Linked DNA regions of Homo sapiens. The protein of the gene in region 1 interacts with the protein of each later gene in a biochemical or structural test. Each region holds a gene or a part of one and is shown in the gene's direction. Other genes may lie near its edges.

Region 1 (8,067 bases):
AAGTACTTTGAAACTATCTGTTCTCTGATCTGAGACCTTGTCAAACAACTTTGTGCTTTCCAAAGATAGATTAAGACAAATTTTGGTGTGGTTGTCACCAAGTAATTCCAGAGGTGGAGGGTGGAAGGCTGTCTCCTCACTCAGCATTCTACCCTCCAGGCCTCACCTCGCGCTGGGCATACAGTCATGCTGGATACGGGATTGCGGGCGGCTGTGGCTCTGACACCCTGGGGTTGGAGCCCCCAGACAGCCGTCCCAGACAGCCACCCATCAGGGTACACGTCCAGTTACTTGAGTGGGGTTAGGCACAGCTGATTTTTTTTTTTCCCATCAGCATTGGCTCCTAGCCTACACTGTGGTCCTTTCAGACGACCCCACGGAGGAAAGGCGAGGTGGTCACGTTAGCCGGAGTAAGGCAGTTTGAAAGAAGCGTGGGTCTGAGCAGAATGGCAGTTAGAGTCAAAGATGGCTGATCTGAAGACTATGAGATGGATCGGTCATCCCCACCATAGTTTTGTTTGGGCAGCCAGTTACACATAAATCGAGGAACTAGGTCTTCATCTTGACCTCTGTGTGTCGTGTATATTCTAGTATGAGTATCGTTAAGACCATTCCTACTGTTGTCACTTTGGTATCCTCCAGGTGGGGTTCACCTTGCTTTGAGCTTGGCTTTTGGGTTCTTGTTTTTCTACCGGGGACTTTCTGTGCTTTCAGATGTTTGAGACCAGGAAGGGGGGAAGGCTGTGCTTCAGTGGAGTGCCTGTGGGCTAGAAGCGTGGTGTGGGCCTGCCTGCCCCGACCCTGCTGTGACAGTTGGAGGGCGGGTGCTCACTGCAGGGCCCTGCCAGGTTGTCGTGTTCCAAAATTGCCCCTTCAAAGGGGGCAGTATTTTGGGGCTATTTCTTGAATGCCCAGGCTTTGGAAAGTGGGACCCCAAAAAGAACAATCTGTCTTCAGTCTGAGATTGCCAGATCCGCAAGGCCCTTCAGGAGGGCAGGTTGGGAAGGTGACACAGCCCACACACACCTGTGGAGCGCACACCTTGGCAGCCTGTTGTGTGACCTGGCCCCGGCCCTGTGCCGCCCTCCGCATCCGTGTCCATGTGGTGTGGCCATAAACCAGAAGTTCTTTCACTTATGCTGGCAGAGTACCACTGGAAATAAACTTGGTAACATTTGAAAACAGCCAGTGTCCTTAATGTGGACCATGAGTTCCCAGCCCCAGAACCACAGGGGTGTCTGGCGGAAGAGGACTGTTCAGCTGGGCTAGGCTAGAGGGAGAGGCCTGCTGTGTTCACCCCGCAGGCGGCCCATGCAGAGAGGCAGTGAGAGCCCAGCTGGTCCTGCCTCTGTTCTCACCTGTAGTGTGTTCTGGAGGTTAGTGGCAGGACTGGATTACCTGGCTGGTGGGCTGGACAGATGAATCTGTTGGCATCTGTACTTGATCCCATCGCACCATCAGCTTGTCAGGGCCTCCATTTGTCCACCTGTTACCTGGATGGACTGACTTCATAATGTGCACAAGCATCTTTTGGGAGCTAACTGCTTCATCTCTGAAGCACACGTTTTTCCCCTCACTGACTGATTTCTCAAGAGGCAGCCTGCAGGGTGCCTGGTATGCAATAGGGCCCCAAGATGCTGACCAGCCATGAGAGGAGAGCGACCACCTGTTCTTCCTGTAGCTTCTGGGGTCTCCTCACTGCAGTGTTAGGGCTGTAGCCTCTGTTGACCTTGGACTCTCCTTAACTCAAGCATCTGTAATGAGAAGTCGTGGTACTGCTGACCGCTGCCCTGCGAGTTGACCTTTGTCCTGCTGCTCAAGGCGTCTCCCTGTTTTTTTTGTTGACAAGACAATCCTTAATGGGAGTTGCCAGCATCCAGGCTGGTAATTCAGAATTACCCTCCTGTGCCAGGACAGGGCCACACTCTGGTTAGGTTCGCTTAACTCACCATCTGCTTTTTTTTTTTTTTTTTTTTTTTAAGACAAAGTATCATTCTGTTGCCTAGGCTGGGGTGCAGTGGCGCGATCTCAGCTCACTGCAACCCCTGCCTTCTGGGTTCAAGCAGTTCTTCCGCATCAACCTCCTGAGTAGCTGGGGTTAGAGGCGCACACCAGCATGCCTGGCTAATTTTTTTTGTATTTATAGTAGGGACGGGGTTTCACCATGTGGGCCAGGCTGGTCTCGAATGCCTGACCTCAAGCGATCCATCAGCCTCAGCCTCCCAAAGTGCTGGGATTACAGGCGTGAACCACCACACCCGGCCACCATCTGCTTTTGGCTGCTGAACTTGAGGGACGTAATTTTGTTTTTGTAGGACTAACATTAACTGATACCCAAACACGGACTGAGGAAAGCCCTGTCTCACAGCAGACCAGGATTGTTGAGCTGCAGGGAAGAGTTGAATTTGTTTTGTTGACAGAATGTCTTTTGTATAAACAGACAACCCAGACAACCTGGTGATCTGCGTGTCACCAGGTTTTGGTTTGTTTTGAATCTGACACCCAGGGCTCAGGGTCTTTCAAATTCTCATTCCCCTTCTAGTAGTGCTTCTCGGATTTAACCTGTGGTGAAGAACCAGGCTTGTAATTTTCAACCTGTTGCATGCCAAAACTTGTGTATAAGGTCAAAATGCTGCAGCGATGCCAGATTGCAGCCACAGTTACTGAGCGCCTCTGTGCTGCCTTGTGCACTGATGGCAGCTTGAGGATCTGACTTTCAGCAGCATGGCTGGTAGAGTGTGGGGGTGCCCCCGGTGGGCGAGGTGGGACAGGGCTGCAGGCCAGGGGGTCTGAGCAGTGCTCAGCGACCTTGAGGCAGGTGGTGCCTTTGGAATGCACAGACCTTGGTGTTCTGCTTCTTGATGCTTCTGCCCAGCAGGTGACGAGGTCCCTGCTGCAGGCCCCAGAGAGTTGCCATCCTCACATCTGTGTACAGGACCTGCATCCAGCTACTCCCCTGTAGAGACTCGGGGCGACCTTGGTGTCGGTTCCACAGGAGGGCTGGCTCTGTGTGCTTGCACATCTGTGTGCTTGCACAGCGAGAGGTCCCGGCCCCATGATAGGGTGTGATTCGTGTTGTGTGCCAGAGCGGCTGGTGATGACTTTTGCCCCACGACAGTCAGTGCTGCAGGTGTGACTGGCAGACATTAGCTTTATCAGCTACAGAGAAGTGGAGTGAGAGATGCTAGTCAGCAGACTGTGTGGCCCCAAGCCATCGGCCCCAGGCCATGGGGTCACTGGGCTGCCAGCTGGCGAGGGTGGCGGTACTGTCCGAGGCTGCACTGCGCCTGCTTGGGGGTGCAGGGAGCTGCTGACATAACTAGTGGGATGAGTCACCCTCCCTCCCGGCTGGCGAGTTGAGTTCAGAGTCCAGGTCCTTAGAGGAACTCAGAGTGGTTTTTCATTTACACAGTACATTTTTCGATGAAGTCATTTCTCTTGTAATTGGATAGACTGTCCCAACTGTAGGCAGGAAGAACAAAATTTGTTACCTCGAGTACTCTGAAGAGTCTCTGTTGATAGTAAGTGACGTTCTTAAATCTAGAATGGTCACTGGCGGTGACCCGGTGGTGGCGATTCCTGTGGAACGCAGCAGTGGCAAGGGGTTTGGGGCCCAGGCTGGAAGTGGCACATCTCATGCCGCCATCTGGGCAGACGAGGGGCTTCCTGGGTGTTCAGTGGACGTGTGGATATCAGCAGACTGCTCTAGTGCTCACTTGACCTTACTCTGCTTTTCATCAGGGAACCTTATCTTAAAGAGCAGTAAAAGAAACTGTTAACCCATTCATCTCCACAACTCTCATGAAACAGACGTCAGACCTCACCACTGATCTCCATTGACAAGAGAAACCGAGTCACTAAGAACTAGCCAAGTTGCTTTGCCCAGCACCACAGTCTCTCAGGGAAGGAAGTCTCCCAGGGCTTTGTCTGGGCTGCTGAAGCTAGTGTGAATTCTTTTCCACATAGCCACGCTGTTGGGAAGGATCCAGTGTCCTTTTTTTTTTTTTTTTTTTTTTGAGACGGTGTCTCGCTCTGTCACCCAGGCTGGAGTGCAGTGGCGCGATCTCGGCTCACTGCAAGCTCCGCCTCCCAGGTTCACGCCATTCTCCTGCCTCAGGCTCCCAAGTAGCTGGGACCACAGGTACCCACCACCATGCCCAGCTAATTTTTTGTATTTTTAGTAGAGATGGGGTTTCACCGTGTTAGCCAGGATGGTCTCAATCTCCTGACCTTGTGATCCGCCCGCCTTGGCCTCCCAAAGTGCTGGGATTACAGGCGTGAGCCACCGCGCCCGGCCGATTCCAGTGTCTTATACTCTGAAGGGACTCGTGAGGGAAGAGGAGAGAGCTGGGTATGTACTGTGTGCAGCTTCTTTTTCTCTCCTGTTCGGTTAAAGCTCCTTGGATGCCTCATGCAGTGGATTTGGGGAAGGCTTTGGGCCAGATTCAAACTCAGGAGCATTTGTGGGTGAACCTGAGAGGGATGGTGGTTGTCACATTTGTCATTTATTGGAGTAAAGCAGAGATGGAACATTTCTAGATAAAAAGTGTAATTTTGCCTCCAAACTCATAGTCCGATCGTCATGGTATTAGATGTGTCATTGGTTTTAGCCATAGACTGATGAAAGATGTGTGACCGGTGCGTGTTGGTAGGTGGTACATTTAGGGCGTTGAAAACAGGCGATTCTTCTGGCTTTGTGTCCCCAGGAAGGGAGAAGGGCCTCCCTCCGCCTGGTGGAGGGTGTTTGCCTGCAATAGGTTGGCTAGAGATGACTCCCGCTGCCTGTGATGCCAGGCCTGGGTGGACTGGGACTGTGGCTATTGGGTAAAAACCTAGCCCTTCCTCAGGGGGAAACTCAAACCACCCCCTCGGAGGCCTATCAGGCAGCATGGAGAAAAGGGAATGGCACCGTGGAGCTCTACCACAGGCTGTCTGGGGCGGGCAAGTGCAGGGGCCTTGGGCAGGGCTGATGGGAGGATGCAGACCAGAAGGGCCACTGTGGAGAGGGAGCTGCAGCACCTGAAGACTGGTGGGCGGGTGATGGAAGCCACATAAACTTTCTGTGCAGTTCAAATTCGTCCTGTTGTGAAAATGGGAATATGGATAACTTCCCCCAGAGATGTGTCAGCCGATTAGCCCGCCTTACTATGCTAGGAAGGAGAACACATCCCTCACTTGGTCCTTCATGGAAAACACATAGTGCTTGTTGTTTCTCCAGCATGTTGGGTTATTTGGTGGATACCAGGTAATTCCTGTTGTGGTTTTCTTTCTTTGCCAAGGTACGGACATTGCTGCAGGAGAAGAGGTTGCCATCAAGCTTGAATGTGTCAAAACCAAACACCCTCAGCTCCACATTGAGAGCAAAATCTACAAGATGATGCAGGGAGGAGGTAGGTCTTTACCAGTCACAGAGCAACACCAGGGTTCTGTTTGACAAGGGAGAACAGCAACTCAGCATTGCTGGTTAAAATAAACCCAAAACTGGTTCTGGGCAAAAGGGAGGGAAGTGTTCTCCACACCCTGACAAAGCAGTCACAGCTTCCTTCAGAGAGTCTTGGGTCCAGAGACCCTCCCTCAACACAAAGAAACATCTTATGGGCCGGGCATGGTGGCTCACGCCTGGAATCCCAGCACTTTGGGAGGCCAAGATGGGTGGATCATTTGAGGTCAGTAGTTTGAGACTAGCCTGGCCAACGTAGTGAAACCCCGTCTCTACTAAAAATACAAAAATTAGCCAAGTGTGATGGCGTGCACCTGTAATCCCAGCTGTTTGGGAGGCTGAGGCAGGAGAATCGCCTGAGTCTGGGAGGCAGAGGTTGCGGTGAGCCGAGATCACGCCACTGCACTCCAGCCTGGGCGACAGAGTGAGACCCTGTCCCCCCCAAAAAAAAAAAAAATCTTATACCATCTTGTCCTTTTGTTTAAATTTTGCTTCATATTGGGTCATGGTTTCTGAAATCAAGAGTGTGTGTGAATAGGCCAGACGCAGTGGCTCACACCTGTAATCCCAGCACTTTGGGAGGCCGAGGCAGGCGGATCACGAGGTCAGGAGCTCGAGACCATCCTGGCTAACACAGTGAAACCCCGTCTCTACTAAAAATACAAAAAAAGTTAGCCGTTCGTGGTGGCGGGCGCCTGTAGTCCCAGCTACTTGGGAGGCTGAGGCAGGAGAATGGCGTGAACCCGGGAGGCAGAGCTTGCAGTGAGCCCAGATAGCGCCACTGCAGTCCAGCCTGGATGAAAGAGCGAGACTCCGTCTCAAAAAAAAAAAAAAAAAAGATTTTGTGTGAATTTCAATGCATGCTCCCCGTGGTGTCGTGTGCCCCTCAGTGGTCACTGGAGCTGTTGCCAGTGGCACGTGTGTTGCTCAGTGGGGCCTTCCTGATGTGTGATCCCTGAGTGAGGCCTCTGCTCCTTCGCATGCTTTGCTTATAGCTTGGGGGAAGTCCCTTCATACTCTCTGGGCTCGTTTTCTCCGAGCAAAACAAGGGTTTTGAACTTGGCGACCATCATGACCTCTTCCAGCTCAGTTACTGTCCCAGTTCTGCGAGCCCTCAGCCCAGGGCCTTAGGTACCTGGTGTTCCACGGTGGGCCAGGTGTGGAGCAGAGCGCTCCTGTCCTCCCCTCAGAGTCCAGCTCTTGCGAGTTCCCTGGACTTTCAAACAGTTGGGCTGATGGAGCAGGAGGGTATTCTCTGCGGGGATTTCAGAGCCATGAAGCGTGTGTCTCAACAGCAGAGCTTCGGTCTGGCAGGAGCCCTCTTTGGGAACAGAGCTTTTTGTCTGAAGAGTGGCTGTGCCACGTCTGTGGAGCCCTCCCAGTGAGAAGGCTCCGCGGCACATTTGTAGGTGGATGGTTGGGTGAGTCCCCTTGGGCAACTGGCCAAAGGAAAACCTGTTCAGGGCCTCTGTTAGCCCTTTTGTCACGGGAAAGGGAGGACTGTTGATTTGATTCTTTGACATCTTTTCTCAGCACAAGCACGTAATCTGTGCTACTACAAGAAACCGACGTTTCTAAGTTTATGTGACACAAAATATCTTTGGCAGCACCTGTGGTCCTGGGGAACCCGTTACAGAGAGGGGCACCCAGTGTGTCCCATCACGGGCCTCACGTGACCAGAGGAGGCCACAGGAATGAAAAATCCCATCACCAACCCAGGGAAAGCTCAGCAGAGACTCCGCCCTGGGAGCCTGTCTGGCGGCCCTTGGTGGTGGACTGGCTTCTCAAGGGCCTGGAGCCTGCATTGCCTTGAAGGTGTGACGAGCCAATAGAGCAGGGTGGTGCGGGGTGTGGCCTTGGCCTGCGGGAGCCTGGTGCTGGGGTCAAGTAAAACCTGCAAGCTTAAAAACACCTTAAGTTTTTACGAGAGATGTCTCCAGGAGAACTTGCAAGCCAGGGGTACACAAGGGCAAAGGGAAGAAAGCCAGTCCTTAGAAGCCCGGGATGGTCACTGGGGAAGCCAACCCTGAACCAAAAAGTGCTACGTGGTTCCGGACAGGACTTCTCCACTCGGCACTAGTGCCATTTGTAGTGGTGCGTTCTCTGCATGGTAGATGTTGGCAGCACCCCTGCCCCTAGTTGTGATACTCAAAACTTTCTTCAGACAGTGCTGAAGGCCCCTGGCAGGCAAAGTTGCTTCCCCTGTGGCCGCTGGCTTAAGAGAGTAAAGAAGCCTGCACCTTCATGTTCCTGCCCATGGCACCTTCTCTAGGATCCTGGAAACCAAATAGGATTTCAGAAATGGTTTTTCTCCCATTTGGGCTTCGAGCGCATTGCCATGTCCCTGACCATTCCAAAATGTAGGTCAGGTCTTCTGTGTTAAATGCACAGACACCTGGTGGATACTGTCAAGGTTTTGGTTTTTGTTTTTGTTTTTTGTTTTTTGTTTTTGTTTGGAGACAGAGTCTCACTCCGTTGCCCAGGATGGAGTGCAATGGCGCAATCTTGGCCCACTGCAACCTCCGCCTCCTGGGTTCAGGCCATTCTCCTGCCTCAGCCTCTGGAGTAGCTGGGATTACAGGCATGAGCCACCCTGCCTGGCTAATTTTTGTATTTTTAGTAGAGAT
Region 2 (8,067 bases), about 36 Mb from region 1:
CCTCCCCGACCTCATCCAAATCTCTTTCTTTTCCAAGCCCCTGAATCCTTCAGGGCTGCAGGTTTTGTTTAAAGCAGAGCTGGTGAGTTGCATAGGTTGTTGCATTGGGACTAGATGGGGTGTTCAAAGAGTTGGGAGTTAAAAAACATAAAGGGTATTTATTAGGAGAACCAAGGAGTGTAATTCTCCTGTTCTTAATATGCGGCCAGGTTAATGAATGTCACGTGAATGAACCAGAAAAAAATGAAGTGTGCCCTTGATCAGCTGGGTTGGTGTGCAGCAAGCTGTGTGACCAGGGGACAGCAGTGGTCCTGAGGGCCGTCACTGTCTGCCGTGCAGAGCCCTTCCTCCCACGGGGGCCTACCTCACCTGTGCCAAGGGCTTGTCTGTGGTCAGTGACCTGGATAGATCTGAATGGGGCTTCTTTTTCGAGGAGTCTTATGGCAGGTCTCTCAGTAAAGACTCCATTCTTGATGATCACACATTTTGGATTTTCCAAATCTGTCAGAGAATGGGCTTGAGGCGGGGTTTGTGGGCACTAGTTTCACTGGTTTCATTTACCAAAAAGGGGAGCAGAAGTCAAGTATGGTGGCTCATCCCTGTAATCCCAGAGGCAAGAGAATTGCTTGAGCCCAGGAGTTCGAGACCAGCCTGAGCAACATAAGGAGACCCCGTCTCCACAAAAATGAAAAATAACATTTTAGTCAGACGTGGTGGCATGCATCTGTGGTCCCAGCTGCTTGGGAGGGTGAGATGGGAGGGTTGTTTGAGCCCTGGAGTTAAAGTTGCAATGAGCTGTGATTGCACCACTGCACTCTAGCCTGGGTGACAGAACGAGACCCTGTCTCAAAAAAAAAAAAAAAGAAAGAAAGAAAGGAAAAAAAAAACTCATGCCTGTAATCCCAGCACTTTGGGGACCGGGGTGGGCAGATCACGAGGTCAGGAGATCAAGACTATCCTGGCCAACATGGTGAAACCCCGTTTCTACTAAAAATACAAAAATTAGCCAGGTGTGGTGGCACGTGCCTGTAATCCCAGTTACTCGGGAGGCTGAGGCAGGAGAATCGCTTGAACCAGGGAGTCAGAGGTTGCAGTGAGCTGAGATCGTGCCACTGTACTCCAGCCTGGGCGACAGAGTGAGACTCTGTCTCAAACCAAAAAAAAGGGGTGGGGGGCGGGGGCAGGAGAACAGTGAGAGGTAGGGAGAGGAAAGGGGATTCTCGCTACACCCAAACCAGATACCATCTAGAGGCTAGAATCTTTGGGAGGCTCAAATTCCCTAGAAAGCAGGAGAAGCTTCTGTAGCCCTCCCGCTTTCCCAGTAGATTAAGCCCAGGGCGGCTCCAGATGTGTGACATGCTCTGTGCCCAACCAGAGCCCATCATAGGCAGAGGAATAACACCCACACCAGAAGGGCCCTCGGAGGTCACCACGTCCAAGAACCCTCTTTACAGATGAGGAAACTGAGGCCCAGAGAGGGGAGAGCCACCTAGCGAGCTGGTGGCGGCTAGACCAGGAGAGCTGTCATTCCAAGCAAGCAAAGGCAACGAGACGAGCCCAGAGCTGTGCTCCCATCTCTTTGTTAGGGGGCCTGGGATGCCCTCTCAGTGTCATTTTGTCCAGGATGATGCTCCCTCTCTTAAGCGATTAATGCGCCCTTGCTAACCTTTTGCTATCGCTGCCTCTTCAAACCAGAGGAGTTGAGAGTTCCGGGCCGGCAGAGGAAGGCGCCTGAAAGGCCCCTGGCCAATGAGATTAGCGCCCACGTCCAGCCTGGACCCTGCGGAGAGGCCTCTGGGGTCTCTGGGCCGTGCCTCGGGGAGAAAGAGCCAGAAGCTCCCGTCCCGCTGACCGCGAGCCTTCCTCAGCACCGTCCCGTTTGCCCAGCGCCTCCTCCAACAGGAGGCCCTCAGGAGCCCTCCCTGGAGTGGGGACAAAAAGGCGGGGACTGGGCCGAGAAGGGTCCGGCCTTTCCGAAGCCCGCCACCACTGCGTATCTCCACACAGAGCCTGAAAGTGGTAAGGTGGTCCAGGAAGGCTTCCTCCGAGAGCCAGGCCCCCCAGGTCTGAGCCACCAGCTCATGTCCGGCATGCCTGGGGCTCCCCTCCTGCCTGAGGGCCCCAGAGAGGCCACACGCCAACCTTCGGGGACAGGACCTGAGGACACAGAGGGCGGCCGCCACGCCCCTGAGCTGCTCAAGCACCAGCTTCTAGGAGACCTGCACCAGGAGGGGCCGCCGCTGAAGGGGGCAGGGGGCAAAGAGAGGCCGGGGAGCAAGGAGGAGGTGGATGAAGACCGCGACGTCGATGAGTCCTCCCCCCAAGACTCCCCTCCCTCCAAGGCCTCCCCAGCCCAAGATGGGCGGCCTCCCCAGACAGCCGCCAGAGAAGCCACCAGCATCCCAGGCTTCCCAGCGGAGGGTGCCATCCCCCTCCCTGTGGATTTCCTCTCCAAAGTTTCCACAGAGATCCCAGCCTCAGAGCCCGACGGGCCCAGTGTAGGGCGGGCCAAAGGGCAGGATGCCCCCCTGGAGTTCACGTTTCACGTGGAAATCACACCCAACGTGCAGAAGGAGCAGGCGCACTCGGAGGAGCATTTGGGAAGGGCTGCATTTCCAGGGGCCCCTGGAGAGGGGCCAGAGGCCCGGGGCCCCTCTTTGGGAGAGGACACAAAAGAGGCTGACCTTCCAGAGCCCTCTGAAAAGCAGCCTGCTGCTGCTCCGCGGGGGAAGCCCGTCAGCCGGGTCCCTCAACTCAAAGGTCTGTGTCTTGAGCTTCTTCGCTCCTTCCCTGGGGACCTCCCAGGCCTCCCAGGCTGCGGGCACTGCCACTGAGCTTCCAGGCCTCCCGACTCCTGCTGCTTCTGACGTTCCTAGGACGCCACTAAATCGACACCTGGGTGCAGCTGCTCCACTCCCTCGGCCTCCTCCCGTGCTCAGGCTGTGGCCGCACGCGCCCCTCACGCTTGCCCGCCACTCTGCATGTCACCAGCACCCCCGCTCCGTGCTACCCACCTTGTTTGACTCTCTGGCCACTTGATTTGTCCACAACGGCCCATCAGCCCACAGGAGGTTTGGTGGGTGCCTTCCACCGACAGGATGACGGGTGCCCTCATGGTGTCTAGAACTCTCCAACCCTCCCATGTAGGCATAAGCAGCCCCACTTTGCAGATGAGGAAACGGAGGCTCAGAGAAGTACAGTAACTTGCCGAAGGCCAATGAGTAGTAAGTGACAGAGCCAGGTTTGGGATCCAGGTAGGTTGTCTCTGAAAGACACGCCTGTCCTGCATCCCACAACGCCTCCCAGGAGGTGCTGGAGTGTGGACGCCTAACACAGAGATGTGCAGGGCACACACAGCAGGTGACACACACAGCATCCAGAGGTGGCCCAGAGCTCATGCTGTGCCTTTGGCCCAGTGCCCTGCCCCCACCCACTCTGCCTTGTGGCAGGAAGACAAGGAGCAGACACAAGATCTCCCTGGTCCACATGCCACCACCTCCCTCTGCAGAGGACAAGGGGATCCTCATGCTGGCATTGGAGGGGGTTGAGCAGGGCCCACCTTGAGCCCTCAGGAGCACGACCACAGCAGCCCTGCAGGGAGGGATTGGTGGGAGGAGAGTCCCAAGTATCAGGGAGAGGAGAGTTGGTGTCCCACAGGAGACCTCAGAGCCACAAGGCGAGCTTGTTCATAAATTTGGGACCCTTAGCATTTCACAGTTATTTGCAGAGCCCAGAAATGGATGTTACTGAAGCTCACAGTTGCAAGCATCTGTTAAATTTTTATTAGATTTTACTTTTAGGGAAAACTTTGAAATGCTATAAAGAAGCCTGTGTTTAAAAGTTAAGACAGAGGCTGGGGGCGATGGCTCACGCCTGTAATCTCAGCACTTTGGGAGGCCAAGGCAGGTGGATCATTTGAGGTTAGGAGTTCGAGACCAGCCTGGCCAACATGGTGAGACCCTGTCTCTACTAAAATTACAAAAAATTAGCTGGGCGTGGTGGCGGGCACCTGTAGTCCCAGCTACTGGGGAGGCTGAAGCAGGATAAGTGCTTGAACCCAGGAGGCAGAGGTTACAGTGAGCCAAGATCACACCACTGTACCCTAAGCCTGGGCGACAGAGTGAGACTCTGTCTCAAAAAATAAAATAAAATAAAGTTAAGAGAGAAAAAAATATATCCTATATCCTTTGTTAAATTCCAAAACAGTAGGGGACAAATAACTGACTTGACAGGTTACTACAATATTTCCTGAAATGATGTTTTCTTGAATACTGGCCTACTAGAGGTTCATAGGTGTGTTTGGATTAAAAAAGAGTTCCATGGCCCAGTGACTGGGGGAAAAAAATAAAAGACTAAAGTAAGTTAAACAGGCTTTTCTGCTGCAGGACTTGTCAGAGCCTTTAATGTACTAATGGCCATTGTGACCCTCTGAGAAGGTCACAGAGTGGGTTTCCCAAACTTACTTGATTCTACCTGCTAACATTTCCTGGAGGAAGTTTGGGAAATGCCGATTTAGCAGATTCTTTTGTTGTGCCGTGGATGGTGCTGGTTGATGTGGGCAAAACAAAGAACACGTGAGTCAGATCCGCCTGGGGCTCTTACTAAAGTGCAGGTTCCCAGGTGCCACTTTAGGCTTACAGACCCAGTTGTGGGGTAAGCCTGGGAGTCTTTTAGCAGGTGATTCTGCCACATAGTATAGTTGGAAAACCTCTGGGCATACTCATTGCTGGTCCCTCTAGAAATCCAGGTGACAATAGCCAATGAGAAGCTCCAAGAGACCCAGTTGTCCATGGGGTAGAGGGAATGTGATATTGAAACCAAAGAAGAAAATCTATGATCAGTTTTCAGCAGTGACTGTCAAGAGAAGGAGAAGGGTGAGTTAGCGCTGATGCTGGCTGACAGGTCAGCGGGTTGGTTTCACCAAGGAGTGTGATGAAGGCTGATGTTGTCTGTGGGAATGTATGATGGTAACTGGTTTGTAGCTAATTTGGGGAAGCAGTGAGAATTCGTGCCCTTTGAAGACCAGTAAGTGGCAAGAAACCCACCAGGCCTGGCTCAGGGCTGGGCTGGGCTTGGCTCGTCTCAGAGCAGCTGGGGCTGGTGGCCAAAGCCACCATTAGTGAGGGGCAGGCCCTGGGGGTACAACCAGCAACTAGGGGACAAAGACAACCCTGCCAGCCTCTCCTATTCTGGAGGCGTGTGACCAGAAATGGAGATGGGTTGGTCAGCATAAGATGGCCAGGAAGGTGGAAATCAGGACTGCTGGCAATCTAGCCACATGGGCAGGGGAGCCGGGTGGTTCCAGGCAGTTTCCAAGGCCAAGAGGGTGAGCAGGCACCTCACAGGGAATCAGGGCCAAGCCTGGCTGCAGTGTGGAGACAATGCACCCACCCCCATCCTTGGATCTTGCAGGAGGCTGGGTCCTCACTGAGCTACCAACATCCATGGCCCTGAGGCTTTTAAAACACCCATCCATGGAGTGGGGCTGGTCCCAGTGGGGTGAGGCTGACCCTGGCAGAAACAGGGCAGGAGCCTGTGGGTTAGGGAGACTGCACCTTCCTTAGATAGCCTCCATGCCATCATGTCCCCGTGACAGTTTCTGCTGCGTCCCCTCTGCATGGTCCCACCCTCGGCCAGCCTGCTGCCCCCTCTTGCCAGGTTGCGCTAATCAGTGACCCCAGTGTGCTGTGTTGATACTAACAATGCGAGGCCTAGCAGATTCAAGGGAAAAGAGAACCAACTGGGTTTCCACCAGACCCAACTAAACAAACATGGACCTATCCCAGAGAAATCCAGCTTCACCACAGCTGGCTTTCTGTGAACAGTGAAAATGGAGTGTGACAAGCATTCTTATTTTATATTTTATCAGCTCGCATGGTCAGTAAAAGCAAAGACGGGACTGGAAGCGATGACAAAAAAGCCAAGGTAAGCTGACGATGCCACGGAGCTCTGCAGCTGGTCAAGTTTACAGAGAAGCTGTGCTTTATGTCTGATTCATTCTCATATATAATGTGGGGAGTATTTGTCACTAAAGTACAGCTGTCATTTAAAGTGCTTTGTATTTTGGGGCAGGCTTTTAAAAAGTCCAGCATTTATTAGTTTTGATACTTACCCCAGGGAAGAGCAGTTGGCAGGTTCATGAAGTCATGCTCCTAATTCCAGCTTTCTTAGTGTACTTTCAGTGAGACCCTGACAGTAAATGAAGGTGTGTTTGAAAACCAAACCCAGGACAGTAAATGAAGGTGTGTTTGAAAACCAGCCCTAGGACAGTAAATGAAGCCATCTTCTCACTGCATAAACTGCACCCAGATCTTCGCCCATCCTTCTCAGTATTTCACTTCACCCATTGTTTACTGTCTCAATGACTGGGGAAATGTCTGGGGAAATGCTCCCGTAATTGCACAGTGGCGTTTTTCCTGGAAAATCCCACCATGGCTCTAGATAAGACCTATTTTTCTTAAAGGTATCTAAAATTTCCAGCATAAATTCTGTCTGAAACACCTGAATTTTAATCAGTACTGGAGCCCGGAGGGCATCTCCAGTTGCCACATAGCTCTGAGCATTCAGTGGTGTGTTGAGGGCTGCTCCCGGAAGTGCCTGCAGAGTCAGGGCTCCCCAGCCTCATCTAGTGAGGCAGTGGAAGGGCCTGTGGGGATTTGGAGAGCTGGCCTGGGTCTCTGAAGTGATAGTGACAGCTGCTTGTCAATCACGGTGCACATTTAGTGCTGGGGGCAGGGGGCAGGGAATACCAGCCTCATGCATGCATGCATTCATTTGTTCCTTCCTTCATTCATTCATTCAGTACACATGGGTACAACATCCCTGCCCTGGAGTTGCCCAGAGTCTAGGGAGGGGAAAGATCTATTACCCTGGGCCTCGGCCAGCTGGGGAGTGCTGCTGGTGGAGAGGGGCCGTGTGCAGCGAGGGAAGGAGGAGTCGTCAATACCCCCACCCCAGCTTTGCTTTCTTGTCATCAGCCCCAGGGCCCCAGCCTGTGTCCCTCCTCTCCCATTGCTACTTCATCTCCTGGGTCCTCCTTACCAAGCCTGACCACACAGAGGGCCTTGGCCGCTTCCATGGGGAATTGGAAAGCAATAAGATAGCATCCCCTAGAAGCCCAGTGAAGTCTGGGACAGGACCCTTCTCTGAGCTCTGACTTGCTCTTGGAAACACTTCGAGGCTTAGCCTCCCCACTTTGTTTCCCGAGAGTGTGACCTGTTCCCCTCCAAACACCCCCTTCTCCTCCAGGGCCATGCCCACCCGTCAAAATCCCCCACGGGCAGGACGAACTGTGGGTGTCAGTCACCATCTATCCTGCATCCTGGTTCCAGGGCCCCCCCCAGCCCCGCCTCCATAGGGACAGGCGTGCAGACACCCGTCCCTGGCTGCTTCCTCTTGTGGAATGGGTTCAAAAGTAAGCAGTGTTGTTTACACTGACAAACTGAAAAAAAAAGAAAAAGAGATAACATTGGAGGCTTGGCACAGTGGCTCATGCCTGTAATCCCAGCACTTTGGGAGGCTAAGGTGGGAGGATGTCCCCAGCCCAAGAGTTCTAGACCAGCCTGGGCAACATAGCAAGACCCCATCTCAAAAAAAAAATTTAATTGGCCAGGCAGAGGTGGGAGGATCACTTGAACCCAAAGGGTGGAGGCTGCAGTGAGCCGTGATGGCACCACTGCACTCCAGCCAGGGCAACAGAGGGAGACCCTGTCTCTAAAACAAACAAACAAACAAACAAACAAAAGAGTTAACATTGGCCAGATTAGGATTCACCAGATAGTGTTAATATTAGTTTGATTTGAGACTTTAATCAGAAAGCACATGTGTGGTGGGGGTGGGTGTAACCTAAGTCAGGTAGAATCTTTCCAACTTGGGGGGGGCACACTCCTGATTGTAGCCATATGAGTCTGTCAGTGTGGTGGAAGAGGCCATGGGTTAATGGGCAGGTAAAAAAGCACCTTGCCTGGAATTGAGTAGAAAGTAAGGCCCTTCAGACCCCGTGACACACTTGGGGACATTTTCTTGAGTAACATCCTAAGATTCATGTACCTTGATGATCTCCATCAA
Region 3 (8,067 bases), on another chromosome or scaffold:
TTTTTTTTCTAAATGATGATCTTGAGCTCTGATTTTAAAATTCCATGAGAGACTGTTGATAATTAAGTTCCATAGGATATTTCAGTTGTTTCATTGAGTGGATTAGATACCATTAAAGAATTTCTACAAGAGTTAGGGAATACAATGCACTGATGAACTGCTTTATTAGTTATATGTTAAAACAACCATTTATTGGGTGCCTATTTCATGGCTGCCACTGTGCTAAGTGTATGAAAGTATATAAGAAAATTCCTACTCTCCAGAAATTTATTTACTAGTGGGACAAGTATTAATACATTATGCAGTTAATGCTAAAATAAAAGAAAGGATCACAGAGTGGAACCTCTTCAGAACCAAATAACTTCAGAAGGAATTTAACATTTTTCCACTTAAAAAAATTGTTAACAGGCATTATTATTATAAATTAGAATGCAGTTCATAGAGTGCATTTCTATTGTAGAAGTTGAATATGGGTTTCCTGAGGAGCAAGTTACTTGAATATATTAGACCCTTCTTGGTGATGTTATTTGCTGTAACTTCTCCTAGATTATTTTACAAATTATTCTACATTGGATGTAATGTTTTAAAAGTCTTATATGGTATTAAACTTGTAACAATAAAATCCATTGGCTTTTAGTTGCCATTACCCAGGGAGGAGCAATACAGCTGGCTAACAATGGTACCGATGGGGTACAGGGCCTGCAAACATTAACCATGACCAATGCAGCAGCCACTCAGCCGGGTACTACCATTCTACAGTATGCACAGACCACTGATGGACAGCAGATCTTAGTGCCCAGCAACCAAGTTGTTGTTCAAGGTAAGGGAATTCAGAATTCACAGGTGTGGTAAATTCTTCAAAATACTAAAATTTTATAAACTCACAGAAAAAGTAAGTATCATATTGCAAACCACCATTCAAATGTAGTTAACATTTCTTCAATATTGATAGTATTTTTCATGAACTCTTCCATTATTCCAATTGGACCAAAATGTCATGGCATAAAAACAACTATTTTCAGTTTTTAAAATATTGCATCTACCTTTAACATCTTTTGGGGTAGAAGAAACAGGATAGGTTAGAAGGAAAGACCAGGAAATCAGGAGTTAGAAAAGATGGATTCTGTATCTAACTGCATGGATCTGCTATGAGGCCTTGAGTAAAAGTCAGCTGCTCTGAGCCTCAGGAAAGTGTTTTGTTTTTTGTTGTTGTTGTTTTTGTTTTTTCATCTGTAAAATAAGAGTTGCACTGAATCTCTGGAAACAATCTTCAGAAGTTCAGGATTCTGTTTCTCTGCTTCCCCCCCCCCCCCCAAAAGAAATTTAAATCTTCTGAGATCATCAGTTTTTATTATTATTATTATTATTTTTTTCTAGAGACATGGTCTCACTGTGTTGCCCAGGCTAGTCTTGAACTCCGGGCCTCAAGCAATCCTCCTTTCTCAGGCTCCCAAAGTGTTGGGATGCCTCTGCACTTGACTCAGTTTTTGTTTCAAATGAAAACATTATATTCCACAGGATCTTATACCAATATGCAAATCTGCTGCTCTTTAGAGAAAAAGTAGTTGTTAAATTCTCGACAAATTATAGAAGTTGCTTTTTTTGGCTTTTTTTTTTTTTTTTTTAGTTTTTTTTTTCTGTTTATTTCAGGAATCTTTATGGATAGCAGTTAACCATTTTTCTTTGGATTTGTTTGAATATTTCAAGAATATAGTTAATGCCAGGTTAGAAATTTGCTGATTGAGGAAATAATAATAAATTTGTTTCTGAAAATATTTTTATAAATAATAATGCATTTTGCCTGTGTTAGGTAATGACAGTTGTATCCTTTCACCATGGATAATTGAATAATCCTGAAACACCAACTGGAGAGAGTCATAACTTATTTAAAGAGCCCTAATGTTTACAGAATATATTCTGTTATTAAACGAGTATTTGAAAAAGATACTATTTTGCTTATTGATGAGAGTAAAACACCTTTTCACTTTACATGCAGGTACTCAAAAATTGTAAAGCAGGATGTCAGTGAATTTGAATTCTGAACGTCAGTTTGAAGATGGTAACATGTTTAGTATATAAATCTTTTCCACTCAAACCATACATTTTAATTGATATTAATAATTAATATGAATAATTTTATAAAGACCTTCAAATTTTTTTAAGTAACATTAGGTTCCTTATTAGGAGAGCATATTATTACGCTGTTTTTAGAAGCAGTTTGACAAATAGTGATTGTGTTTGTTTTTACAAATGGTGAATCAGTTAGAAAAATAAAACTTCAGTTTATTTAGCCATTATCATTTACATTAAAACAATATGTTTTTCAAATAATATAATTGGCATCAAGTGATACACTTTTTCATACTTTTAGTTTTGTTTTAATTCAAAATTTATAATAGTTGACCATAATGCTTTATCTTCTTTTTCATTTTGCTATTTTATGAAAAATCATGGTCGTTTTTATGTCGTGGCAAGAGTCTACTTGAAATTTTTTAATATGAATTTACCAATATCAAAGGAAGACACTGAGGACTATACTCTATCTAGGAAGATCATCCAAGCTGTGCCCCACTTACCTTTTAGACTTAAGGTTGGTAAGCATGTTAACAACAGAATAGAACTGCATTCAAATGAAAAATAAAATGTAAGATCCAGCGGACATAGGTTACTGTAATAAATACATTACATTGGGAATTATTTCTTAGTAGTGGCGCGAAGAGTGCTGATTCTTTCAACGCTTTAGCCAGAATCATCTTTTCTTTTTTGTTTCCCTTTTAGTCCAAAATACATGCTTAGATTGATGATTGATACACATAATTGAATCAAGTTGCAATGTTTCTGTCTTACACCATGCTCACTGTTTTTTTCAGCTGCCTCTGGAGACGTACAAACATACCAGATTCGCACAGCACCCACTAGCACTATTGCCCCTGGAGTTGTTATGGCATCCTCCCCAGCACTTCCTACACAGCCTGCTGAAGAAGCAGCACGAAAGAGAGAGGTCCGTCTAATGAAGAACAGGTACAAATACTGCATTTACTTAGATTGTTATGTGTTAAGTGTGTCTTCACATTCTGCTGGATGTGTATCTTTACATCTACTGGTAATAGGATCTTTGCATTGAATTTTTTTTTTCCAGCAGAATTAATGGATCTTGCTAAATTTTCTTTATTTAATAAGCTGCACTTATAAGATAGCTGTATGATTATGGGTCAATCTTTGATCGTGGAGTAGTTTTCTTTCATGCAGTTTCCCCACAGGAGATTTAATGCACAACTTCCCTATGTCTGCACTCCAACCAGTTAGCCAGGTTATTTAAAAATGGTTTCTTTTCATGTATAGTATTGTTCAAGAAGATCAAGAGTTTCATATATGTATATTAACTGTGTGTTAAATTTTATCTATATTAAATTTACTTGATATAAAGTAAATGTATGGTGGCCAGTTCATGTTTTAATGAATAATATCTTTACTCAAAATAATAACATTTTAACACCTAAAGATTCTTCAAAAATATGTTAATTCTAAGAATACCATGTTACGGACAAAAATCTTAAAATATAGTCTTCAAAAAAATACTACATTCAAAATCTGTGAAATGTTGGTAAAGCAATTCTCAGAAAGTAACTTTATTGCTGTAAATGATTTTGCCGTCAAAAACAATAAAAATAAGTTACTAAATATTGGTTTAGAACTTTCATATAGAAGTGACCGAGACAAACAAAAGAAAATGAAAATAAGGTTATGTAAAGGTTTAAAAAGTTTGAAATTAGTGAAAGTATCTCACTGTTCATCCCAGGATACTTCAAACACTGATAAAGTGAAAGAAGCAGGGCTTCCAAGTCCTAGCCCTATCCCTCCATTTTGGGAGAAGGTATTAACCTTCTGTACCTCAGTTTTGTAAAATGGGATTCCAGCACACACCCAAAGTATTGTTGTAAGAGTCAAGTAAGAGAATCCTTTGAAAGCACTTTGTAACTGTAGTGCTCTGTTGAAATGGGTTTGTGTGTGTGTGTGCAATTTCACAGCTCAGATCAGCTTTTTTGTTCCTAAAATATTCTTAGCTGTCACAATGTTAGTAAATTATATCTAAACTCTGAGAAATGGCAGAGATTTTTCTGGGATATTAGAAAAAGAGTTGGAAACAAGCCAAGTGACTTTTTTTTTTTCTCCCGAGATGAAGTCTTGCTCTGTCACCCAGGCAGGAGTGCAATGGTGCAATCTCAGCTCACTGCAGCCTCCACCTCCTGGGTTCAAGCAATTCTCCTGCCTCAACCTCCCGAGTAGCTGGGATTACAGGTGCCCACCACCACGCCTGGCTAATTTTTGTATTAGTAGAGACATGATTTCACTATTTTGGCCAGGCTGGTCTCGAACTCTTGACCTTGTGATCCACCCTCCTCGGACTTCCAAAGTGCTGGGATTACAGGTATGAGCCATGGTGCCCAGCCCTCAAGTGACTTTTATTTGTGCTCCATCCATCTGTGATTTTGAGTATTTAAGTTTTACTAAAGAGAAGCATAAAAGCTGCATTCATAATTCAAATATATTTTAAAATATAAATTAAAATCTGTAAATAAAAATTAAAATATTTTCAGTTTTTAAAAATGTTTATAAGGAAACCTTTAACTTAAAATTAGAAGCAAGTCTGATCAAGAAGTCTCAAGCACAGGCTGAGTAGTAATATTTAAGACAACACTGCTTACTAAAGAAAAGAGTTCAAAGCAAACATAGGAGCAGAATCAAAAAATAAATCCTTTTGATTATAAAAAACAACAGAAGGACTTCTGTTTATGTCTATGTAGTTTGGCTGTGTGGAACAAAATGTTTACCCCCGTTGACTGGCAGACCAAATTTCCTTTTTGTTCTATTTATTTTTCTTTCAGATTTATGACCACTGCCACCAACAAGTTAGGAACAGGGCACACATAACTACAGTTCCTACCAGGCTTTGCTTGCCTGAGATCTTCAGGGAAACTACCCGACTTACCATGGACTCTTTCATAACATTACTTTGCTTAGATATAGTTACCCTACTCTTTAAAAAGGAAACTTCTCATTGATTCTGCCATAGTTCCTTTTCCCCTTTGTTACCAGATTACTGCTGCTTTTACTTTTTCAGCCTCCATTCACTGGAATCTGGCTTCTATGACTAGCATACCGCTCATATGTCTATAAAAAGGTACAAATTCCCTCCCACTTGGCAAATCTAGTATTTTCTTTCATTTAATTTTAACTCTATGGAGTATTTGACACTTTCGACTTCTCATTACTCTAAACTCTTCCTTGGCTTACTTCACCTGGTTTTCTGGCTACTTTTCAAATTTTTCCTTTGAACCTTCATCCATACCCATGTATTTCAGGCATTACTTTATATGCTGATACTTCTTAATTCTGTATATTCTGGCTTTGACCTTTCTGCCGAGTGCTATTTATTAAGCTCCAGTATATATTATTTTATTAATTCTACCTACAGTGAGGTAGAAGCTTATCCCCACTTTAGAGGAGGAGAAGGTAAATATCAGAAAATTCAAATATTTTGCCAAAGGTCACACACTTTATGAGATTAGTAGAACTGAAATTTGAACCCATATCTGGCACCAAAACCTGTAAACATGCTACTTCACTGATTCCAGTATGCAGCCATCTTCTGCTGTGCCTCTCAAACCAGAGCACATGGCAGTATGCTAGGGATGTGTAGCCTAAGGAGGTGAACGTGGAGTGCTTTCCTTGAATGTTCATTTTGCTAAAATATTTGAGAGAAATAAACCTTATTTTTAAGGTAAAATAAGAGTTTTAAAAGAAATTTATACCAGCAGTGGTTTTGCTGCACCCCCAGAGTCTCCATATTTGGTTTCCTCTTCTAGTGTGGCTATTTCAGTGGAAAAGTTAAGAGAAGCACACTCCTAAGCATGCTCACTAGGATGAATTTCCCTTATGCACATCAAACACAGCCTATCTTAAAGTTTGATAGGAAAAGATTGTAATCCAAAAAATTCATCACTATCCAAATTGCCATTTATTTCAAGATGAAGGTAAGTGGTAAACATTCTAAAAGAAAGTGTAGACAGCTCTTCTGTTAATTTGTGTTGCTACAGTAACAACCACGAATCTCAGTGTCTTAAAATTTCTTCCTCACTTCTGTTACATTTTGGCAGCTGCAGGTCAGTTGCTGTGGCTCTCCTTCATGTGCCCATCTGGGTCTAGGATCCTGGGCTAGATAGAGCAGCACGTCTTTGAGAAAAGGGCAATGCTTTTGAAAGCATTTGCTTGATTTTGGTGAACGTTACATCTACTCGTGATCTGTTAGCCACAGCACAGGCAAGGACAAGCCCAAAGTCAGTGGAGTGGGAATGAACTCTTCCTACAGGAAGTGGAGAGTGAAAAATTGTGAAAGTAATACAATCTATCACCTTTGCCTTTATGTAACTTTACATTGTAGGGGGATTTTAAAAGCAGATTCCCTAAAGGCAGAAGTAACAAAGGAAAAGGTTAAATGGATTTGACCATATAAAACTATAAACCCCCTATTTAGGAAAGTAAAAGATAAAGTAGCAAACATTTTAACAAATAATGTCAGAAGACTAATGAGTTGAGGGATATAAATAGGCAGATTCTTAGAAAATGGATAGGGTAAAAAATTTGAAAAATTCTAAAAAAATTAAAATGTATTTGATATGAATTAAAATATATCCATTCAACTATATACAACTAGCCATTAAGAGTAAATAAAGGTGTATTTTTATTAAGATGGGAAGATGTTCTCGGACAAAAGCAGGTTACCAAAGAGTATTTACATTACTATCAGGTTTTTTAAATTTATTATTACACAAGTAAAACATGTTCATTATAAGTAAATTAAGAAACATTACCTAAAAATTGAATTACTTCTAATTTCACCATCTAAAATGTTAACATTCTAAAGTCAGTTTTTTTACTCAAACCAGTACAAAGGTAAATATACATTTTTAATATATTTTTAAGTAATTTTAAACTTACAAAGGAGTTTTAAAAATACAGAGTTCCGGATACCCTTCATCCAGCTTTCTCTAATCTTAGTATATTACATAACCAGGGTACATTTATCAAAAATAAAAGTACATTGGTATAATACCATTAACTGAATTATACATTTTATTTCCCCAGTTTTTTTACTTACATAATCCAGTTTGGGTACCATATCGCATTTAATTATAGTCTCCTTCAGTCTGTGAAAGTTTGTTTCCTTGTCTTTGATGGCCTTGTAACTTTTGAAGAGTAGTGATCTGTTTTCTTTTAGAATATCCCTCAGTTTGCATTTGTCCAGTGTTTTCTATGGATAGATTGAGATAATAGGTTTTGGGGAGGAATTCCACAGAGGTATAGTGTGCCTTTCTCATAACATCACATCCGGGAGCACATACATAATTGGCGATATTAACTTTGATCACTTGGTTAAAGTGCTGTCCAGGTGTCTCCACTGTTGAGCTACCATTTTTCTCTTTGTCCAGCCCATATTCAAGGGGAGGAGAATTAAATTCCACCTCCTAAAAGGGAGAATATGAAAGAAATTTGTGGTCATATGTTAAAACCACCACAGTAATTAGGTGTATTTTAGAAGAAGTACTTGGAGGCTATGCAGATATATTCTTTTCTCTTTAAAGTTTTGCCCACCAGTTTTAGAATTCATCAGTAAATCTTGTCTACAGTAATTATTACTATTTGCTATTCTAATGGGAATTTTGTATATCTCCATCCCTTCTAATATATTTAACAACTGAATTCTATAAACAAGATTTGTTTCTTCTCCACATTATTTATTTTATCAATACAGACACATACTTTGGGAGTTATAATCCAATACTATTGTTATTTATTATGTTGTTCATATTGTTCTAGCTTTGGCTACTGGGATCTTTTATAAGTGTCTTCTGTGTCCTTTTGACATGCCCCATTTTTTTCTTTTTAAGCACATCTTTACTTTCTGAGACTACAAGATTGTCCAGGTTCTCATCTTGTGTTTTCCCTTCCCTAGCCTTGGAATGAGCTGTTTTTCCAATGATCTCTAGTTCCTTTATTAGAAAATGG
Region 4 (7,987 bases), on another chromosome or scaffold:
TAAGACAGGGTTTCACCATGTTGGTCAGGCTGGTCTCAAACTCCTGGCCTCAAGTGATCCACCCACCTTGGCCTCCTAAAGTGCTGGTATTAAGGCATGAGCCACCGTGCCTGGCCATATTTTTTAAACTTATATATATAAAAACTAGGATACTTATCTTTTCATTTATAATTTGTGATAGTACCTTTTATATATTCTTCTTATTAATTTTTAATTGTTACACGCTTTCCCAAAATCTTCCAGCCTATGGTCATCTTTTAACTTTGTTGATGGAGTCTTTTGTATAGTGTTAGATTTTAATGTCTGTAAATTTAATAATTTTTTCCTATATGAACTGTGATTTTATTTTATTTTTTTTTAGTTTAGAGACAGGGCCTTGCTCTGTCCCTCAAGCTGGAGTGCAGTGTCACAATTGTAGCTCAGTGTAACCTATAACTCCTGGAATCAAGTGATCCCCTTGCCTCAAGCTTCCTGAGAAGTTAGGACTACTGGCATGCACTACCATACCTGGCTAATTTTTAAATATTTTGTAGAGACAAGGTCTCTCTATGTTTCCCAGGATCGTCTTAACTCTTGGCCTCAAGTAAGCCTCCCACCTCGGCTTCCCAAAGTGCTTGGATTACAGGTGTGAGCCACCATACCTGGCCTTAACTGTAATTTTTGTTTTGTTTCTTTCCCTCTTAATGTCAGATAGTTTTCTATATTTTTTTCAAATTTTTTTTTTTTTTTGAGACAGTCTCACTTCTTCACTCAGGCTGGAGTGCAATGGTGCGATCTTGGCTCACTGCAATCTCTGCCTCCTGGGTTCAAGCAATTCTCCTGGCTCGGTCTCCCCAGTAGCTCGGATTACATGCACGTGCCACCACACCTGGCTAATTTTTGTATTTTTAGTGGAGACGGGGTTTCACCATGTTGGCCAGGCTGGTCTCGAACTCCTGAGCTCAAGTGATCATCCCACCTGGGCCTCCCAAAGTGCTGGGATTACAGTCATGAGCCACTGCACCTGGCCTGTTTTCATTTTTTATACAAAAATGTTCAATCCATGTGGAATTTATTTTTGAATATGGTGTGAGGTAGGCATAATCATTTGATGCTTTTTCCACAAACAGTGGTCTCAGATTCATTTATCAAATTGCCCTTTTTTTTTCCACTGATACATAATGCAACATCTCTCATATATCATTTCCATATATGTGAAGATGTGTTTCTGGGTTTTCTATACTCTCATTGGTCACTTTGTATAGCTGTGTCAATAACATGCCAATTAATTTCTATAGCTTCAAAAAAGTATAATGCTTCCTATACTGTATAAGTTGTGTCCTCCATAAGAACACCAGGGTAGAGACTGAAATCCAAATCCTGCTTGATACACCCAGATATAAGGCTGTGCCTACCTAAAAGGCACTTTTTTCTAATTCATAGAAAGACTGCCTGCTGGGTAAACTATGTGCTTTCAGGGCTCCCCGCTTTCATCCTAGGGGTACTTTTTCCTTCTTCAGAAATTGATAGAGAAAGGCTACTACATACTCTGAATGGATGTCAATTGGACATCCAAAAGGACAAGATGGCAATTCTCCCATCTTGTCCTTCTTCAAAAGTGTCTAGTCTATACTAGGCCTTTTGATCTTGCTGAAATCTATGTAAATCTTGTTGAGAATTTCACTAATCTTGCATTGTTTTTTATTACTTTGTAGAGAATTGACATATTTTTGAATTTAGTTTTCCCATTAATTAATGTGATATTAATATTTATTCATGCCTTTTTAATGCCTTTTAACAGAGTTCAATAATTTATTCATAAAGGTTTTGTAAATATTTGTTAATTTATTTTCAAGGTTTCCCTTTCATTGTCATCATACACACACACACACACAATTGCACTTTATGCTTGTGCATCACTCATGTTTAGGAACACATTTTTTTTATAATGATGACATTAAAAAATACTTATTGGTCATTCAAAATGAATTTCCTTTTCAAAACCTTAGTTTATTATTTTTTTTCCTGGTCTATCTGTGGCGTAATACCCTCCTCCCAGTGATTTGTAAGAACTTTTGAAAGTTGAAGGCAAATTGTATTTCATCATATGTATTTCAAATTTTTTCTTCCTGTTTGCCGTTTGACTTCTAGTTTCATTATTGGGTATTTTTTCTTTGACTGCAGAAAATTTAAATTTGATGGAGTCACATATACTACCCTTATGTGATTTCTTTTTTGTTTTTATGTTTCCTTTTTCAAGATTATATAACTATTAATTTATATTTTATTTTTGAAGTTATTTTTATTTAACTTTTTAATCTATTTGATGTTTGCTGTAATTAGTAATGTCAGTTTTATTTTTTTTCTTTTCAGGAAATTAGCCAAATGTTCTAGCACCATTTTATTCTCCACTGAACCCTGCTTCCATCATAAATTCATGCCTTAATCTTCATTTTCAGTCTTGTTAACTACTTGAAGAGTTGATAAATCTTGGAATTTCAGTCAATCAATTAAACATTTTTGAAAACTAAGAGAATACTTTACCTTAACACTGCAGTAGTTCATGGGAGAATGCTCCCAACAAATAATTCATATTTTCACACTGTCTACTCACAGTCTGGCCAATATAGAGTAGATAATAAATAGGCAATAGATGGATGAATGAATTGTGGAAATTAGGAGACATCTTTTAATTTAGATTTATTTTTCTTTGGAAGGGAGGTAGGTTTTAATTTCTTGCAAGGTTGTAATTCAGTAGAACAGGAAGGGAGAAACTAATGCAGAGGAACAGAAGGAATGCATGAGATGGAGAATGCCTAGAAATGTTTGAGACATTGATTAAGTCATCAGAAATGGAAACAAGTTTAGAAACAACTTAGAAAATAATACACTGTAGGTCTGATAAATATTGTAAGATTGGGAGTTTTTTGTTAAATTATGGAAAATTTTATATAGATACAATAGTAGAACAGACCACATGAACCCATCTCATATTATCTTCAACAATTATCAATTCAAAAGTTGTTATCGTTATCTCTATCTCCACACATTTCATCTTTTCCTCCACCACTGGATGACTTTGAAAGAAATCCTAACCATTTCAACTATAAATATTTTAGCATGTCTCTGTAAAAGTTAAAGACTCTATAACAACAAGACATAGACCCAATATCCAGGTTGAGTAGGAGTTTGCTATCTTACTAATCTAATGTATTAACAAAGTCTAGAGCATTCTTATTAAAGTGGTAGAGCATGAAGAACCTTCTACCTGGAGTTAGGAGATTTGCTGGGTTGAAGTCCTGGCTCTCAACTTCCCACCTGTGTGACTCCAGCAAAGCTCTTCACTTCTCAATTCCAAATCTCAATTTCCTCACTAGTGAAAGAAGGATACATAGTAGTAGTTGTATCCATTTCAGAATTGTCATCAGGATTGAAGTAACAGATGTGAAAACAAAACTAAAATTGTGAAGTAGTAACTTCCAGTCCAATCCTCTTCTTTGTAAGTGATCTTGAGGACAGACACATCACCTGAAGGATAGATCATCTTTGCCTAGCCTTGTCTACAATGTTCTTGCTAGGTTTCTTTTCCTAAAAACACATTACTTAGGTACTTAACAGAACAAACAAACAAACAATCAAAAGACAAAACCAAAAAACTTTGGGGTTATAGACACCCATACTCATAAGTATTTCTGAATACCAAGAGAAGAGTATTTAGGTTTGCTTCTCTCAACTTTTCACCTTTCATTTCATGTACCCTGTCCTTTGTCTCAGCTCTAATAGCTCTGAGAGCTGATTACTTTTCGGGTGTCCCAAGTATCAGGATCCTGCCTAGTGCAACTCAAATTTCCAAAAGTTAATTTAGTGGCCTTTTGGTGACCAGAGCTTCAGATAACTCACAGGGAAACAATGTTTATTTCCTCTCCCACTAACAGTCACAAAAAATCATAAAAAAGAGTAGCGGGGGCAGTTTTGATGGCTAACCCCTCTTTCCATCCTTTGGGGGAAAATTGCTCATCTCCCTATAGGTGGAACTCTAAAGACAATGTATTCCTAAAAGGGGCCATCTGGGCGGTGTCCTCTTTTCCCAGCGCCCTGATTTCTATTCTTAGATCTGGAGATAGGCGGCTTTCATTTTTCCTGCTCCCAGTTCCCAGACCTTCCGTGGGGCCGCAGGATCCCCGGCTGGCGGGTCGCGGAGGGTGGCCGGCCGGGCTGCGCACTGCGCGCCTCCGCTGCGGGGCTCCGGGCCTGTGGACTCAGCGGAGTCCGCTGAGTCAGTTTCTTCCCGCGCGACTCCCGGCCGCGCCGCCGCTGCGGTGGAATCTGGTCCCAGGAGGCGGCGTCCGCCCGGGGTCCGGTCTAGGCGTGCGTGGGGGCCACGGTCACGGTCATCCCAGCCAGGCCCGGCTCCAGCAGCCCCACGGCCGCCGCCAGAGTTCTGCGCGGCCCGTCGCCTCGGCGGAGCCTCTGGCAGGCCCCTGAGCTCGTTTTTGGGGCCTGAGTGGGGGAGGAGGAAGCCGAGCAGGAGGGCTCCGGAGAGGGAGGGCAACGCGGGGCGGGGAGCTGCCTCCTTCCTCATAAACAGGCGGGCGTGGGCGCCGATGGGGCCCGCGGGGAGCGCTGGCTGCGGGCGGTGAGCTGAGCTCGCCCCCGGGGAGCTGTGGCCGGCGCCCCTGCCGGTTCCCTGAGCAGCGGACGTTCATGCTGGGAGGGCGGCGGGTTGGAAGCAGGTGCCACCATGGCTAGTGGCAGCTGTCAGGGGTGCGAAGAGGACGAGGAAACTCTGAAGAAGTTGATAGTCAGGCTGAACAATGTCCAGGAAGGAAAACAGATAGAAACGCTGGTCCAAATCCTGGAGGATCTGCTGGTGTTCACGTACTCCGAGCGCGGTAATCACTTGAAAATAAACTGTGCTTTTATTTTTGCAAACTTTCTCCCCCTCCTTACATTTGCAAATTTTGTCCTCCTCCCCTTGACCCTGCTCAAACCCGGACTCTTAAGGAGCCGCAAACTCCCATATCCTTTCCTTAGGGCAGAAAGCAGCTGAGAATTTCAGGAAGGTCTTCACCTTTTTGACTTTTCTCCCCGTTTCAGACTAAAAAGGAGAGGGGGTGCTGTGGATTGTGACTTTGCTTCTTTTCCCCACCCACTTGTTTTCCAGCCTCCAAGTTATTTCAAGGCAAAAATATCCATGTGCCTCTGTTGATCGTCTTGGACTCCTATATGAGAGTCGCGAGTGTGCAGCAGGTAAAGGCATTGTTTTCACTTCAACTCATTCTCCCTTCTGTTTGGAAGGAGACGTTTTACTGGCAATGTTAATATAGCCGAGAGTTCTTGGTTATTCCCAAAATTTGGCTTGAGGAACCTCTGACTGTGATTTTAAGATGGGAATATTGTTAAATCATTACGCAATGTAAACGGGATGAAGAGCCCCAGTATGTGTTCCCTGAGTGTCTTTAAGAAGTAACTTTATAAAACCAACAGTATGGATGGTGGTAGAAGGAGGATAAAAATGGGTTCGGTTTTAGTCTCGTTATTGGCAAGATGAATTCATTAGTGTTTAGACTTGACTATTCCAAGTATCTTCCCAATACAGAGCATGTCCTAGATGAGAAGATTATGAATAGTTTGGAAAAGGGGAATAATTAATAGTGATAAAATGCAACTTTGTCACTAGCAAACTCTTGTAGAGTTCAGCACTTTTTAAAATTCAAAGATTTCTAGCCTTTAGTTGTAGTATACCTTGTAGTATCTAAAGAAAGTGATGTCTTATGAGACCCTCATAGTTTGCAACTGTTGTCATATAAAATGCATGTAGAAGTGAAACTTTTACAATCTGTACCATAGGAAACCCAGAAATTTGCTATGTATCTTGGATTTTTTTTTAAAGGGGGCCTTAAAAATGGTAATTAAGAATGATTTACAGTCAAAACAAAATTATAGGCCAAGGTGATAACTTCCTTCGGAGCACTTAGAGATTTGGGGAACTGAAATCAGTTTTGTCATCTGCATGTTAACTCATGCAGAGAAAGAGAATTGGACTTTGAACTCCTTGGAGGTGCAGTCAGAAAGCCAATGTTTCTTAATGGTTGAGAGGCTTGACAGACATGAGGCATCTCAATCTTTAAAGTGGTGTGGGTCTATCTTTATCTTGATGTTTATCTCTGTATCTAGCTGTATCTAGTCTGGGTGAACCATCTAGCTTCTTTGATATGAGGACATTTACATCTGGAAGAAATATTTTAATTTGTTTTCAACTGTGAAATATTTTCCATCTGACTATTATAGATTTTCACGCTGCTATCAAACCAAACCAAGAAAAGATGGAGGCATAATAAAGATGCTGTTCTTTTAAGACTCAAAGTCGGAATTTTGCCTGTGGAATATGAGTCACTTTTTGGGCACTGGCCTATTGTGCTTCCTGCTCTGCACCCACGTCATCCCTTCTTACTTGTCTCTGCTTTGGTGTTCAGAAGTGCCTGATTCTGGCCACCTTCATTCCCTAGACTCTGTACTTGATAGAGTCACTCCTGCTTGATACTGCTCAGGACAGTCAGATCCTGGGTAGGCGTTTTGGTCTGCAGGGTCTAGATAAGGCAGTGCTATACTTGACAACCCAGGGGAGCCTGGAACATACTTCCTAATTCTTAATTTTAGAAATTGCCCAAGCCTGAGCATACTTGTCCGGAGTAGTTATGAGTGTCACTTAGTATTTCTGCCTAGAGAGTACCAGAGGCAAAGTATGCTGGAAAATAAGGAAGAGTTTTTTTAAAAGTAATTAATTACTTTTTTGGATATATCATAGTTGTATATATTTTGGGGATACATATGCTATTTGATACATGTATACAATGTGTAATGTTCAAATCAGGGTAACTGGAATATCCGTCACCTCGAACATTTTTCTTTGTGTTGGCAACGTTGCAATTTCTTTCTTCTAGCTATTTTAAAATATGCAATGAATTATTAACCATAATTTCCCTGCTATACTATTAAATATTAACTTAATTGCTTGTATCTAATTATATTTTTGTACACATTAACCACCTTCTCTTTATCCCTCCCCATCCTTTCATTTCCAGTCTCTGGTAACCACCATTCTACTCTCTTCCTCCATGAGATCCACCTTTTCCGCTCCTACATATGAGTGAGATTATGCAATATTTTATTTCTGTACCTGGCTTATTTAATTTAACCTAATGACCTCCAGTCCCACCCATGCTGTTGCAAATGACAGGATTTCATTTTTTATGACTGAATAATATTCCATTGTGTATGTATACCACATTTTCTTTTATTTTTAGTTAAGTAATTAATTTAGAGACAGGGTCTCACTCTGTTGCCCAGACTGGAGAGCAGTGGTGTGATCAAAGCTCACTGCAGGCCTGCAATCCTGGGCTGAAGTAGTCCTCCTGCCTCAGCCTCCCAGGTAGCTAGGACTATAAGCATGTGCCACCATGCTCAGCTAATTTTTTTTTCTTTTTTTACTTTTTGTAGAGATGGAGTCTTGCTATGTTGCCCAGGTTAGTTTCAAACTCCTGACCTCAAGTAATCCTCCTGCCTCGGCCTCCATATTTTCTTTGTTAATCTGTTGATAGACATATAAGGTGATTCTGTATTTTAACTATTGTGAACAGGGCTGCAATAAACATGGGAGTTCAGATATATCTTTGATATACTGATGTTCTTTTTTTGGATATATACCCAGCGATGAGATTACTGGATCATATGAAAATTCTCTTTTTAGTTTTTTAAGATACCTCCATACTGTGTTTCATCATGGCTGTGCTACTTTATATTCCCATCAGCAGTGTACCACCATTCCCCTTTTTCTGCATCCTTACCAGCATTTGTTATTTTTTGTCTTTTTGATAATAGCCATTCTGCCTGTGGTGAGATAATATCTCATTATGGTTTTGATTTGCCTCTCCCTAATGATTAGTGAAGTTTAGGATTTTTTTTTCATGTACCTGTTAGCCATTTGTCTGTCTTCTTTTGAGAAATG

The links.
Region 2: of the proteins of CSNK1D (region 1) and MAPT, one has a biochemical effect on the other in vitro, tested with the Homo sapiens proteins (4 studies listed by BioGRID).
Region 3: of the proteins of CSNK1D (region 1) and CREB1, one has a biochemical effect on the other in vitro, tested with the Homo sapiens proteins (one study listed by BioGRID).
Region 4: of the proteins of CSNK1D (region 1) and LRRK2, one has a biochemical effect on the other in vitro, tested with the Homo sapiens proteins (one study listed by IntAct).

The regions. Positions count from the first base shown.
Region 1 is NC_000017.11:82,263,009-82,271,075, reverse strand, and holds part of CSNK1D (casein kinase I isoform delta), read left to right. Parts: exon of another isoform or gene 1-4,351; intron 4,352-5,279; coding exon 5,280-5,390; intron 5,391-8,067. UniProt on the Homo sapiens protein: Essential serine/threonine-protein kinase that regulates diverse cellular growth and survival processes including Wnt signaling, DNA repair and circadian rhythms. It can phosphorylate a large number of proteins.
Region 2 is NC_000017.11:45,981,171-45,989,237, forward strand, and holds part of MAPT (microtubule-associated protein tau), read left to right. Parts: intron 1-1,695; coding exon 1,696-2,760; intron 2,761-5,869; coding exon 5,870-5,925; intron 5,926-8,067. UniProt on the Homo sapiens protein: Promotes microtubule assembly and stability, and might be involved in the establishment and maintenance of neuronal polarity.
Region 3 is NC_000002.12:207,574,635-207,582,701, forward strand, and holds part of CREB1 (cyclic AMP-responsive element-binding protein 1), read left to right. Parts: intron 1-637; coding exon 638-820; intron 821-1,996; coding exon of another isoform or gene 1,997-2,013; exon of another isoform or gene 2,014-2,019; coding exon of another isoform or gene 2,020-2,059; exon of another isoform or gene 2,060-2,291; intron 2,292-2,475; exon of another isoform or gene 2,476-2,590; intron 2,591-2,870; coding exon 2,871-3,021; intron 3,022-4,886; coding exon of another isoform or gene 4,887-4,932; exon of another isoform or gene 4,933-7,187; coding exon of another isoform or gene 7,188-7,312; exon of another isoform or gene 7,313-7,512; coding exon of another isoform or gene 7,513-7,526; exon of another isoform or gene 7,527-8,067.
Region 4 is NC_000012.12:40,220,412-40,228,398, forward strand, and holds the start of LRRK2 (leucine-rich repeat serine/threonine-protein kinase 2), read left to right. Parts: upstream 1-4,585; 5' UTR 4,586-4,720; coding exon 4,721-4,871; intron 4,872-5,143; coding exon 5,144-5,229; intron 5,230-7,987. UniProt on the Homo sapiens protein: Serine/threonine-protein kinase which phosphorylates a broad range of proteins involved in multiple processes such as neuronal plasticity, innate immunity, autophagy, and vesicle trafficking.